Homo sapiens: one gene and its partner. The protein of the gene in region 1 purifies or fractionates together with the protein of each later gene. This does not show direct contact. Each region holds a gene or a part of one and is shown in the gene's direction. Other genes may lie near its edges.

The links.
Region 2: the proteins of KMT5C (region 1) and POC1B purify together in Homo sapiens (affinity purification with mass spectrometry; one large-scale study listed by BioGRID and IntAct). This does not show direct contact.

Annotation. Positions count from the first base shown.
Region 1 is NC_000019.10:55,345,689-55,348,713, forward strand, and holds the end of KMT5C (histone-lysine N-methyltransferase KMT5C), read left to right. Parts: intron 1-524; coding exon 525-661; intron 662-811; coding exon 812-999; intron 1,000-1,267; coding exon 1,268-1,761; 3' UTR 1,762-2,433; downstream 2,434-3,025. UniProt on the Homo sapiens protein: Histone methyltransferase that specifically methylates monomethylated 'Lys-20' (H4K20me1) and dimethylated 'Lys-20' (H4K20me2) of histone H4 to produce respectively dimethylated 'Lys-20' (H4K20me2) and trimethylated 'Lys-20' (H4K20me3) and thus regulates transcription and maintenance of genome integrity.
Region 2 is NC_000012.12:89,466,896-89,470,547, reverse strand, and holds part of POC1B (POC1 centriolar protein homolog B), read left to right. Parts: intron 1-53; coding exon 54-187; intron 188-2,862; coding exon 2,863-2,931; intron 2,932-3,625; coding exon 3,626-3,652. Other genes in the region: POC1B-DUSP6 readthrough, read left to right, coding at 54-187, 2,863-2,931, 3,626-3,652.

The DNA of each region.
Region 1 (3,025 bases):
GCTTAGGAGGAGCCTGTGGGGCAGCTCCTGGGTGAATGATCCCAAAGGCAGGGCCAGAGCACACACAGATTGGGCTGTGGAGTGAGGCAGGCCTCAGAGAAGCGGGGGCGGCCCGCAGCAGGCAGAGCTCGGACCTCAGCTGCCAAGGCACAGTCTGGCGGGGGGCAGGCAGCTCAGGAGGGGATGGGCTTGGGTGTGGCAGAGGAGGTGGGGCTTGGCACGGGGCCACAGAGGCTGGAGGGAGTGGTCACCACTGCTGGCACTGCACGCTGCCAGAAGGTCAGGTTAGATCATCGTCCTGCAGGGAGGGGTGGAAACCAGCCAGTGGGTGGATTGTCCAGGGGCTACAGGCAAAGGACAGGCCCTCGGCAAGGCAGCCGCCTCGGAATGCCACTTTTAGGGGCTCAGCTGTTGCCCCATTCCAGGAGAGGACGCTCCGGGCCAGGGTGCCCGGCCAGGTGTGGGGAGTGGGTGAGCCCTCCCCTGTGCCCTGGGCCAGGGCGCTGAGTGGGCTTGGCCCTCAGTTTGTGCCTGCAGATGGGAACGCAGCCTGCGTGAAGGTGCTCCGGGACATTGAGCCTGGGGACGAGGTGACATGCTTCTACGGCGAGGGCTTCTTCGGCGAGAAGAATGAGCACTGTGAATGCCACACCTGTGAGAGGTGGGACCGGGCGAGAGGCGGCTGGGTTCGGGTCGTCTGGGCTTCTTGAGCCCAGAAACGCACCCTCGGGACCCATCCCTGAGTGTGTCCAACCCCAGCCTCTCATCTCCCTTCCACCCGGCCTCATCTCCCCTTCACCCGGTCTCCCAGGAAAGGTGAAGGAGCTTTCCGAACCAGGCCTAGGGAGCCCGCGTTGCCACCACGGCCCCTGGACAAGTACCAGCTGCGTGAGACCAAGCGGCGGCTGCAGCAAGGCCTGGACAGTGGCAGCCGACAGGGCCTGCTGGGCCCTCGGGCCTGCGTGCACCCATCCCCGCTGCGCCGGGACCCATTCTGCGGTGAGCACCCCTCCCTGCCATCCCAGCAGCCCCTCCCCTGTCTGCTCCTGGTCATCTGTCTCCTTTCTTCTGAGCTCTCTGCCTAGCCTGGAACCCTCCCTCCCACCCTCAGTCGCTGGCAGGCCTCGCTGTTGAGCAGTTCGGCCGCATCATTCCTCTGGGGAGCGCAGGGCAGGGCTGCCTCCTTGTCCAGAGGAGGACCGGCCCAGCTTGCACTGACTTCACCTCTCCTTTGTTCCTCCTCTCCCTGCCACCTGGGCCTTCACAGCCGCCTGCCAGCCCCTGCGCCTGCCAGCCTGCAGCGCCCGCCCAGACACCTCACCCCTCTGGCTCCAGTGGCTGCCTCAGCCCCAGCCCCGAGTGCGGCCCCGGAAGCGCCGACGCCCCCGGCCCCGGAGGGCCCCAGTGCTCTCCACCCACCACGCTGCCCGCGTCTCCCTGCACCGATGGGGAGGCTGTGGCCCCCACTGCCGCCTGCGAGGAGAGGCCCTGGTGGCCCTGGGCCAGCCCCCCCACGCCCGCTGGGCCCCTCAGCAGGACTGGCACTGGGCCCGGCGCTATGGGCTGCCTTACGTGGTGCGTGTGGACCTTCGTCGCCTGGCCCCAGCCCCACCAGCTACCCCAGCCCCTGCTGGGACCCCAGGCCCCATCCTGATCCCGAAGCAGGCCCTCGCCTTCGCCCCCTTCTCCCCACCCAAGCGCCTACGGCTGGTGGTCAGCCACGGCTCCATCGACCTGGATGTCGGCGGTGAAGAGCTGTGACAGGCCGGACGGGGAGGCCCAGCAGGGAGAGAGGGTCTCTCTCCTAGCTGCTACCCAGGACCTCCAGAAGGAGCCCTTGGACCTCTGGGAGGGAGCTGACCCTTGACTCCAGCATAGCTCTGACCCTGGAATGGGGTTGGTTTGGACACCCCCAGGGATCTGAGCCCTGACCCTTTGTGACTGCTGACCCCTGAGCCACCCCCACTCCCACAGGGAGCCCCGGCCATTTGCTGCCCTCCCCACCCCTGCCCCAGCCTCAGGACTGCAGGAGCCATCCGCCCCCCTCAGCCCCTTCCTCCCCAGGGAGCAAAGCCATAAGGGGCAGGGGCCACCCCACGGCATCTCCCCAGAAGTACAGGCCTCAGGAGGAGGTGGAACTGATGTAGGGGGTGGCACTCCCCAGAGACTGCCCTCACGAGGGGACTGGGTTCGCTCTCAGCTCTGCAGCTGTCTGCGGTGGGGGGAAGGTTGGGGGGTGTCTGGAGGCATGTTCCCCTCACCACCCCCCGTGGGTCTCAGGGAGGCCGGGTGTGACCTCATCTTTCTCATGGTGCTATCCTGGTGCTATTGGGGTGGGGAGCTCCCTCCCCTCCCCCACACCAGAAAGGGGTATGTTGGGGGCTTGGAAGCACTTGAACTTTTTATTTTATTAAAACCTTGTTATAAGCAGCACCCTTGGCGGTTTTTTGTTTTGGCTTATGTTTTGAAGGGATGTGAGGAGGGTGAGACCCTCAGCTGTGCTGATGAGAGGGGGAGGAGGCAACACAGGCCTTCAGCCCTGAGAGCTGTCGGGAGAGGGATTTGGGAGCGTGATGGACTAGGGGACTGAGGCTGGAGCCCCATCCCCACTCAGGCTGTGCTTGTAAAAATGCCTTGAGACCCATACTCTCCTAGGAGTGGGTCCTCCCATTTTCCAGGCGAGGTCAACATCGTTTAGCAAGCAGAGTGACTTGCCAAGGCCACGTGGGGACTTGAGGGCCCTTCTCCCTTCTCGCGCTTCTCAATGAGATGCCCCTCCCACATCTCACTCCAAACGGAGAGAGACTGCTGGGGGCCTGGCTGAGTGAGGGTGTGGGGGCTGCCCAGGACACCAGAGCCGAGCCTGGGGGAGGCGGCGCTGACAGGACCTTCCTCAGCTGTGGCATCTTGGGCTTTGCCGTGTGTGAGACCAGGAAGATGAATCTTGTTTCTTCAGGTCCGCTCCAGGATCTGGATTTTGCCAGGGCGTCTTAGCTCTGCCTGCTGTCTCGTTTTGCAAAAGGAA
Region 2 (3,652 bases), on another chromosome or scaffold:
TCAAAAGTAAGAATTGTTCTCTGAACTTTTTGCTTTTATTTTCTACAAATCAGTTCACAGCGGTGGAGTTAATTGCATATCATTCCATCCTTCGGGTAACTATCTCATCACAGCTTCTTCAGATGGTACCCTTAAGATTCTGGACCTCTTAGAAGGAAGGCTCATCTATACACTTCAAGGACATACGGTATTAACACTCAGATTCTTGCTTTTTATATATAAAAATATAAAATAATATATATTTTAAATTTCTGATCCATTTTTATGTCCCTTTATTGTTTTTCCAGACATAGCACACATTGCTGCTATCATAAAATTTTTTTACTTCCAAGGCTGTTTTTATCCTCTGGAAGCAACTCTTAGAAATATTATTTGTGGCTGGGCGTGGTGGCTCACGCCTGTAATCCCAACACTTTGGGAGGCTGAGGCGGGCAGATCACCTGAGGTCAGGAGATCGAGACCATCTTGGCCAACATGATGAAACCCCATTTCTACTAAAATACAAAAAATTAGCCAGGTGTGGTGGCACATGCCTGTAATCCAAGCTACTTGGTTGGGAGGCTAAGGCAGGGGCATCACTTGAACCCAGGAGGGGGAGGCTGCAGTGAGCTGAGATTGCACCACTGCACTCCAGCCCGGCAACAGAGCAAGACTGTCAAAAAAAAAAAATGGAAGAAAAAAAGAAATATTATTTGTTGTAATTCTTATCAAAATCAATGTGTATCTTTCAATGGCCATTAAATGAATCTTCTCCTGCTGTCTTTATCAGTATGTTGTATAGATTGACTGGGTAAATGGTGATGGGTAAGTAGATTCCATACTTCAGATCCTTCCTTCATGTGGAGGCTGTCCCGCTTAGCCCTGACACCCAGCCTCTCACACCTCTCCCTCACTCCTTCTGCTAATTTGTTGGTGGGTTTAGGAGAAATTGGGTAAGCACAGCCTAACACCTTCTACTCTCCTGCCTTTGGGAGTAGCCATTCTTCACTGTTTTTCTCTGATATTCCTTGTGGGGAGACCTGCCCTTGTCTAGTGTTGCCTGTGACTCATTCTGGGCATCCGTTCTAGAAAGCCTATTTGTGTTACACATAAAAGCCACATTCTCTTTTTACAAGCATTTATTAGAAAGAAAGGTGATATTTCGATTCTTATGTGCTGTATTCCTTTGTCTTATTTCTCAATTGGTTTAGAACCAAGTAGGTAAGAGGGGTGCCTTTTATTGAGCCTGTTCAAAGATCCCTCCCTGGCATATAGATCAATTTTTTAAATTTATTATTTCTTTATTTTTGAGATGGATTCTTAGTCTGTCACCCAGGCTGGAGTGCAGTGGCACAATCTCGGCTCACTGTAACCTCTGCCTCCTGGGTTCAAGTGATTCTCCTACCTCAGCCTTCTGTACAGGCGCACCACCACGCCCAGCTAATTTTTTGTTTGTTTGTTTGTTTAGAAGAGACAAGGTTTCACCATGTTGGCCAGGCTTGTTTTGAACTCCTGACCTCAGGTAATCTGCCTGCCTTGGCCTCCCAAAGTGCTGGGATTACAAGTGTAAGCCACTGTGCCCAGCCTAGATAAATTTTTTTGAGTATATAAACTAGTCTTTTCTTCCAGACAATATTCAAACTTCTCTGAATTTTTTAGAATGCATCCTCTTTTTTTTTTTGAGGTACTTCCTTTTAACAAGTATAAGCTGTTTATATCTAGAAATAGAATGAGCCTTGTGGTCTAGAAGAGAAGAGTTTCTTTTTCACAGGTTCTGCCTGGCTTCCTGCTTTGCGTTATCATTTATTCTGCAGTGGTGTTAGGGTAAAGCAGAAATAAATACTAACCAGCTTAAATATATGCATATCCATGGATTTAGGCTGAATAAACATAACAAATAAAAGTGGCCAAGGATTGAAATATCCATGAAAAAAGTACAAAATAATAGGGAAAAAAGATAAACACAGTCTTTCAGTAGGAAAACACTACATGAAGATGGAATTTTAGTCTGGAAGTAAAGGTGTTTATGAAGCTATTAATATTATAAACTAAATCTGTGGGATAGTCTACTTGGGAAAATACAAGATGTTTTTCCCTAAAACTTTTCTTGTACAGATTAAGGACATATTAAAAACATATGGTATATATTAATATTTTTGAGATAAGAAATACTTACTCTTATCTGGACTGAAAAATTGACCTAGAGGCTATCCATCTTGTGACTGTGCCAAGCACAGTCTTGTCCAACTCCGCAGTAACTGCTCAATTTCAGGTTTTCATTACCTCTCACCTAGATAATTACAGGAACTTCCTAACTGGCCTCCAACCAAGCATCTTACTCCAATTCATCTTTCTCAGAATTGTGATACTGATTTTAATCATTCACAGCTCTCCTCCTATCTGTGTTCTGCTCTTTAAACTTTTAGTGGTTTATGGTTGCCTACATGAAGGGGGAACTCAGTGAAGCCCATTGGTCAGGAAATGGACTTCATGTAAATAGCCTCATTCCCATTACCTACATATTTATCATTCAGTTTCTGCTAGTGATTGGTTGAATACAGAGTCCAAAGCCAGAAAATCTTAACAGAAATTCTTATGAACTTACATATGTAAAAGCTTTTCTTGAAAGGAGAAAAAAGTTATTTTTTTAATTAATTTTTAGTATTTTTTTAGTATCATTTATTTGTGTTTTAATATGATTGGGTTGATTCTTTGATTATCTTCACTCTGCCAGCATTAGTTGCTAGCAACTGATGTGTTTTATTAGACTTATTGCATGAGTAGTATGCATAAATTAGGATGAGAAATTGATATCCATAGTCTTCTTGGCCATGAGAAAGCATTACCAAGTACTTTTTTTCTTTATTTCCCTTTATTTCTCAGGGACCTGTCTTTACTGTTTCATTTTCAAAAGGTGGAGAGCTATTTGCATCAGGAGGTGCAGACACACAGGTTTGTAAATCTTTCAGCTCCTCTTTGATTTGGTTAAGGTAAAGGAATCCTTGACCTCAGCTAAGAGTTTTACAACCAGCTAGTTTGTGTATGTTAAGATGTTTGTCAATGAGTTTATATTTTAATTAGTACCATGAAGTCTGCTATCTCATAGCTGAAACAGAGCCAGTTCTAAATTTTGGGAACTCAAATAGTTATTTTCTTTTGCTCATTTTACACTTAACTATACATGTAACTGACACTATATGTCCACTTTCAGTAATTATATAGCACTTTTGCTTGAATCATTGCCTTATCTTAAGCTTCTTGAGGATGGTAAATATAAATCATTTATATACCAAATCTGCATTTATCTGAAATGACCAAAAGTCATTCATGGCCAGATTTATTGAATAAAGTGAATGACCAGTCCAAAACATGGTTTTGGGCTTTGACCAAAAAAAAAGAGGATTTTAAGATAACCAGATATTTTCTTAATATGAATTTTAAACCAGACATGAAGGCAATTCAAAATGTTAAATCTCTCCCTCAACCACACCTTAAAAAAAGATATTGAGAAATAGTAACATAGTTGAAATATATATCTACCCTTCCTACTTTGGGAGACAATTCTGTATATTGTGGGTTTTAAAATCAGCTCTATTGCTTGTACATGCAAGTCAATAACTGCCAACATCATTGACTTTTTTCATAGGTCTTATTATGGAGGACTAACTTTGAT